Linked DNA regions of Homo sapiens. The protein of the gene in region 2 purifies or fractionates together with the protein of the main gene of each other region. This does not show direct contact. Each region holds a gene or a part of one and is shown on either strand. Other genes may lie near its edges. The genes, in order: RDX and PLEK.

What was found.
Region 1: the proteins of PLEK (region 2) and RDX purify together in Homo sapiens (co-immunoprecipitation; one study listed by IntAct). This does not show direct contact.

Annotation. Positions count from the first base shown.
Region 1 is NC_000011.10:110,258,310-110,262,141, forward strand, and holds part of RDX (radixin), read right to left. Parts: intron 1-3,832. UniProt on the Homo sapiens protein: Probably plays a crucial role in the binding of the barbed end of actin filaments to the plasma membrane.
Region 2 is NC_000002.12:68,374,995-68,378,826, forward strand, and holds part of PLEK (pleckstrin), read left to right. Parts: intron 1-3,832. UniProt on the Homo sapiens protein: Major protein kinase C substrate of platelets.

The DNA.
Region 1 (3,832 bases), on a different chromosome or scaffold from region 2:
TGATGAAATTGCATAGAACTAAATTACATACACACAGAAATGAGTGCAGGTAAAACTGATGTAATCTGAATAAGGTGGCTAGATTGTACCAATGTCAATATCTTGTTTGTAATATTGTACTGTAGTTACACAAGATGTTACCATCAGGGAATGCTGGGAGAAGGATACCAGGGATCTCTTTTTTTTACAACTGCATAATAATCAGTAATTATCTCAAAGTTAAGTGTCTAGGATCCTTAAATTCCTTGAAATAATACTTGCTCCATAAAGTGATTACAAAGATAGCTTATAGGAACCCAAACAGTTCAAAGGAATAAAACATTAGATAAAAAAATGGCTCATTGTTAATAGATAAAGACCAGACTGAAAACCAGAATTCTTGGGCCCTAATTCTTCCTTTATGTATTTACTTTTTTGCTACTAATTTTGTTGTTTTAGGTAGGTAATACTTTCAATTAAAAAGTAGAGTGAAAAGTCATACTCCAGTCCAATACCCCCCAAATAACTTGTTTTTGTATCCTTCCAGTGTTCTTAATTCAAATGTGAGCAAATACATTCTTTTTTTTTTTTTTTTTTTTTTGAGATGGAGTCTCGCTCTGTTGCCCAGGCTGGAGTGCAGTGGCACAATCTCGGTTCACTGCAACCTCTGCTTCCTGGGTTCAAGTGATTCTCCTGTCTCAACCTCCCAAGTAGCTGGGATTATAGGTGTGTGCCACGATGCTCTCGGCCTCCCGCGTAGCTGGGATTACAGGCGTGCGCCATAATGCCTGGCTAATTTTTCTTTTTTGTGTGTTTTTTTGGTATTTTTAGTAGAGACGGGGTTTCGCCATGTTGGCCAGGTTGGTCTTGAACTCCTGACCTCAAGTGATCCACCTGCCTCGACCTCCCAAAGTGCTGGGATTACAGGCGTGAGCTACCACGCCCAGCCAAATACAAACATTATATTCTACTACTACTATTTTAACACCAAATCAGCAAAGTCAACATGATTATAAGTTACCTACTATGCACACTACAGTTTGTGACTTCTATTCTCTTTGGCTCATATGATAATTATTCACCTTTATTTACCAGATCCTACTTTACTGACAGCAGAAGCTGTGGTGTTAAAATATTACTGTTTTACTATATAAAAAATCTTGCATGAAACCCAAGGATTTCTTGGCAGCATAAAGGAATGATAAAATCTCCCCCTGGATAAGTTACCTACTACTTAGAGTAAATTCCTTAAAGGGGTCTCAGACATACTGTTATGTTCTTATTATACTCTGCTCCTTTCTCTAGGCATCTTTTCCAAGCTCTTGCTTTTGGGGAGAAGAGTTTCATCTTCCTTCTGAGAGAGCTTAGGTTTCCACAGTTTCTTGTCTTTCTTGCTGTCTGGCCTCTGGGCTCACAGAGAGGCATGCAATCAGCCTTGGAGACATAACCCAGTGCAGTCAATTGCTTACCATAATTATATGCCCAATGCCAGTACTAAAGAGGGCCTCGAAAATTTGTAGAGTGAATAAATGAATTAATCAATTTTTCCCAACCCCTATTTTTTTTTCTTTTTCAGAGACAACTTTCTTTTATGGACTGTCCATTATACACTAACCTCAATTTCCATACCTGACATCCACTGCCCCCAGTCTACCATAATCTGGCTCAAACACCCAATACTCTATGGTAACTGTTCTTCTTTTTTTTTTTTTCTTTAGACAGAGTTTCGCTCTTGTTGCCTAGGCTGGAGTGCAATGGCATGATCTCGGCTCACTGCAAACTCCACCTCCCGGGTTCAAGCGATTCTCCTGCCTGAGCCTCTCCAGTAGCTAGGATTACAGGCATGCACCACCACGCCCGGCTAATTTTGTATTTTTAGTAGAGACGGGGTTTCTCCATGTTGGTCAGCCTGGTCTTGAACTCCCAGCCTCAGGTGATCCGCCCACCTCGGCCTCCCAAAGTGCTGGGATTACAGGTGTGAGCCACCACACCCGGCTGGAAACTGCTCTTCTAAGGTCACTACCAAGCTCCTTATTCCAACAGATACTTTAGTTCTCCTCATATTTGACCTCTTGGTACCATTTGGCAGTGCTGACCATTCTCTTCATCAAAGTATTCTTTTACCTTGGCTTCCATGATATAATACTCTTCTGGTATTATTCTTGTTTTCTGAGATGGAGTCTCGCTCTGTCGCCCAGGCTGGAGTGCAGTGGCGCCATCTTGGCTCACTGCAACCTCCGCCTCCCGGGTTCCAGTGATTCTCAGGTCTCAGATTCCCGAGTAGCTGGGATTACAAGCATGTGCCACCATGCCCAGCCATCTTCTAGTATAGAATTATTCTTGAATCTGTGGCCAGTGTCTCAGTACAGTTGTCCCTCCATATCCATAAAGGATTGCTTCCAGGACTCCCCTTGGATACCAAAAACTGTGGATGCTCAAGTCCCTGATATAAAATGGTGCAATATTTGCATATAACCTATGCACATCCTCTTGTATACTTTCAATCATCTCTAGGCTAATAATACTAATACACTATATTATTACTACTATGTAGTATAATAATACACTAATACACTACAAATGCTATGTATTGTTATCCTGTATTTTTAAAATTTTGTACCTTTTCATTGCTGTGTTATTTTTTTCACATATTTTCAATCTGTGGTTGGTTGACTCTGTGAATGCAGAACCCAAAGACAAAAGCTGAGGTCCAACAAGATCTGTCCTAGGTCTTTTTCTCATTTTTATGTACTTGGTAGGTTGATCTCTTTCATTCTCATGGTTTAATTACCATCTATTCACTGATTACTCCCAAAACTGTATCTATAGTCCAAGACTGTTTCTAAAAGGTCTGCACCCACATATGCAAATAAATACCAGATATCTCTCTTGGTTATATTGCACATATTTCAAACTCAATAGGTTCAAAACTGAATTCATCTTCCCCCTCAAATGTATTTTTTCTTCCACTCATTTTGATAAAAGGTATTACCAAATACCCAGCCGCCCAAGTCAGAAACCTGGTATGTAAAAGTTTATGTATATTTAGCTCTTTTCAAAGGGAAGCAATACTATCTGGTGGAGCTAATTATCTATACCACAAGAGCTAAACTTTTCTACAGTAAGAACAGATTGCTCATCTGGGTTTTTCAATACAAGAAATCAGAATGTATCAGAATCACTAAATTATTTTATTTGATTTGTTATCACCAAATAACCTAATTACTCATTTCCTCCCCAGACTGTACTTAGATACTGAGAAAAAGTGTCCGATATACCATACTGGAATAAGCCAATCACTGTGAAAATATCCTCTCTGTTCTAAACAGAAAATGAAAAAAAAATGGTATTCTAACTTTATGACTAAGTCTCATTTTAAGATAACATGGCTTGAATTAGTCCTCCATGGAATATCAACTCTGAAGGAACAACTGACCTACAAAATTAAGGAACAAATCTTGAAATAGGCATTTGCACTAGCAACCACAAGCAACCCTATCTAAAGCATTTAGCCACCTTCCTTCTTTTTAAATAGAGTAGGTTAGAGCACACCCATATTTAAAATAAACTGTGCTTGTGTGTTATTGTAGTGTTTAAGAGATTTTTTTCAATCACATGAGTTATGAAATGTAAGCCAATTACTTCATCTGCTGCTCAACCAAACAGCAATCTGGCTTAACACTGAAAGATCAATGCTGTACTTGTTTAGATAAAGCATTCCTATTCTTTAACATTTAAAAAAAAAATTAAAGTAATTCTGATTATAAAACAAAAGGTAATCCTTATATGAAATGAAATTCCACCATAATAGTCTGATTACTCAATTCAGTAATCTAAGATGAAGAATCTTAGG
Region 2 (3,832 bases):
CATTCTTGATGAAACCTTTATGACAATATGCATTCATTTCTCTCAGATCTTTGCCCAGGAGTGAAATTGCTGGTGCAAAGGACATATATGTGTTTAGCTTTAGCATAAAACCACCAGATATTTTTTCTGCACTGGATGTGATATTCTGCACTCCTGCCAGCTATGTTTGGTACTTCCAGTTATTCTACCTCCTTGTCAAGTCTTATTCTTCTCTGACTTTGAAAATGCTAGGTACTCTAGCAGGTGTGTAGAGGTATCTCATTGTGATTTGAATCTGCATTTTCCTGATAAATAATGATGTTGAACACTTTTTCATAAGCATTTGGATGTTTTCTTTACTAAAGTGCCTGCTCGATACTTTTTGCTCATTTAAAAATAGGATTATTTGTACTTTTCTTATTGATTTGCAGGAGTTCTTTGTATTCTAGATATGTTTCAGTTGTAAAACAGAAAGGCATTTTACTGGAATTATTTCATGTGTTGGCACAGTGTCTGATCTTGCTCATTTTTAAAAGGGGAAATAATCCAGTGTTCGTCTGGAATAGTTATTCTGCCCATGCAGAAAAGAGATAGGGTATTTTAATTTAGAAAATTATTTTAGTAACTAGAACAAAGGAAATGTTTGGACAAGCAAAGTGATAGTCCCACAAGTATTTATCTTTGCATAAATAGTCTTCCTTTTGGTCAACTGGACCTTTATATAGAGGCCCTTTGTATTTTGAGATAAGCAGCAGGGTCTCTTGGGAACTGGATGATAATTCTATTTTGTGGTAGTCATGACAGGGTGATATCATGGGTTAAAGAATAGACCTTTGCCAAATTCTTCCAAAATATAGACCAGAAATAGAGACTTCCCTGTTTTAATCAGAATGGTCAACTTATTGCTAAAGGGGCAGCTGGCATGAACCCAAACTGAAAACATTTTAAGTAAGGATTTTTTTAAGGGCTACATTAATGTGGATAGCCTCATTCTGGCATTATAGACCTTTTGCAAGTGATTTTCATACAACTTAGCCATGCCTGCACACAAGGCTGCTGTCTGAGTTTCTTTTTGACATTCATATTCAGATAAAATCTGATTAGCCCAAGAGATGGAAGCAACTGCAGGGTGCATGCCACCACTTATGACTGCTTTGTCTATGGGAGACACGGCTGTTGGATCACAACACTTTTCCACTGAGTCCAGCCTCAAGCATCCACTACTACTCAGTCTGAATTGACACTTGAGATAGATTCTACTTGCCATTCTTGAGTTGAACTGAACTCAATGGGCAGGTTTGGGAGCAGAAAACAAACCACATAAAGTCAGCCTGAAATGTACCAGGGGAGCTTATGGGTTGACTGTCACTGTATATACATTTTATCTTAATTAAAAAAAATTCCAGTAGAATGACAGTCCTCCTTTCCCCTGAAGGCATCCTTCCTGCGCAGCCTTGTGCAAATGTGGACCACCTGCCTCCACACTGGCCAAAGCTGAGTTACATATTGTCCTGCAGAGGTCTATAGGATCATTTTAGGAAATATTGTCACACTTATTGTGTCTATTCTTATGTTAATCATTTCATTATGTCTTATTTATTCAGTCTTATCTATTAATAATGTGATCTTATTTTTAATTTTTAATTTTTAAAATTTAAATTTTTGTGGGTGCATAGTAGGTATATGTATTTATAGGGTACATGAGATGTTTTGATACAGGCATGCAATGAGTAATAATAACACCATGGAGAATGGGGTATCCATCCCCACTAAGCATTTATCCTTTGTGTTACAAACAATCCAATTACGCTCTTTTAGTTATTTTAAAATATACAATTAAGTTGGCAATAGTCACACTGTTGTGCTATGAAATCATAGGTCTCATTTATTCTTTCTGTTTTCTTGTTTTTGGTACCCATTAACCATCCCCACCTCCCTGCAGTCCCCCACTTCCCTTCCTGGCCTCTGGTAACCATCCTTCTACTCTCTGTGTCCATGAGTTCAGTTGTTTTGATTTTTAGATCTCACAGATATGTGAGAACATGTGATGTCTGTCTTTCTGTGCCTGGCTCATTTCACTCAACATAATGATCTTCGGGTCCATCCATGTTGTTGCAAATGACAGGACCTTCTTTTTTATGGCAAAGTAGCCCTCCATTGTGTATATGTACTACACTTTCTTTATCCACTCATCTGTTGAGGGACACTTAGGTTGCTTCCAAATCTTGTCTATTGTGAACAGTGCTGCAACCAACATGGGAGTGCAGATATCTCATCCATATACCGATTTCCTTTCTTTACAGTATATACCCCCCAGTGAGATTGCTGGGTCAAATCGTAGTTCTGTTTTTAGTTTTTTGAGGAACCTCCAAACTGTTCTTCATAGTGTTTGTACTAATTTACATTCCCACCAACAGTGTACAAGTATTGCCTTTTCTCCACATCCTCAAAAACATTTCTTATTGCCTGTTTTTTGGTTAAAAGCCATTTTGACTGAGATGAGCTGTTATCTCATTGTAGTTTTGATTTGCATTTCTCTGATGATCAGTGATGTTGAGCACCTTTTCATATGCACACTTGCCATTTGTATGTCTGCCTTTGAGACATGTCTATTCAAATATTTTGACCATTTTTTGAATGGTTTATTAGATTTTTTTCCTCTAGAGTTGTCTGAGCTCCTGATATATTCTGGCTATCAATCCTTTGTCAGATGGGTAGTTTGCAAATATTTTCTGTCATTCTGTGGGTTGTCTCTTCACTTCGTTGCCTGTTTCCTTTGCTGTGCAAAAGCTTTTTACCTTGATGTGATCACATTTGCTTATTTTTGCTTTGGTTGTCTGTGCTTATAGGGTATTGCTCAAGAAATTTTTGGCCAGACCAATGTCTTGTAGATTTTCCCCAATATTTTCTTACAGTCATAATGTGATTTTAATTACCACCGTTCATTCCACAAATTATTGATTGAACACCTGACAATATGATGGTGAAGTAAGTTCTTGCCCCCCTGGAACATATAGTTGGGTGGCAATAGTTGACAGAGTGATTTTACACACTTTATATATAAAACATGTGTATACATATGTATTTAAAGATATATACACTGTATAATGTATATGTACATTATTCACATATAAGCATATGGCATGCATTATACACTTATATATACATATTTTATACATGATCTAAATCTAAACTATGCTTTAAGATGGAATTATTATCTCTCTCTTAGCAAACAAAAAGCCATGGCTCAGAAATATTAAACATTTTACCCAAAGACATGTACAACTAATAAGTGGTTGACATGAGGCTCAAATGTAGGTTCGAGTTTTGACCCCAAATCATAGCATACACTGAAGTATCCTAAATACTTCAAGCATCATTGGATGACATGTCATACAATAATGGAGGAGGCCTGCAAGTCTGAGGCAGGCCGGATTCTTCACAATCCCAAACCTTATTCCACCAGAAGAGAAACCAAAGGGAAGTGTGTTTCCTCACAAATACATTCATGCAGATCCTCAGGGCCTTCAGCTTTCCCATTCATTACTCCACATGGCAACTGGCTAAATATTTTTGACTCTTCCTCATTGGGATGATACTGATACCAGTTCATTGTCATTTTTCCAAGAATAGAGAGGATGAAAACTCAAAGCATGGAAGACATTCATACATGGCCATCTGTCAAGATACTTAATAATACAACCTCTCATTTGTAGAGCACATTCGAACTTATAAAATCTTATCCAAATTATTTCATTTCATATGTTCTAGAAATCTCTGAGGTAGTCATTCTTATCATTTTAGTGCTGGGAACTGAGCCTTAGAGAGGGCAAGTGGCTTACACAAGTGTGGG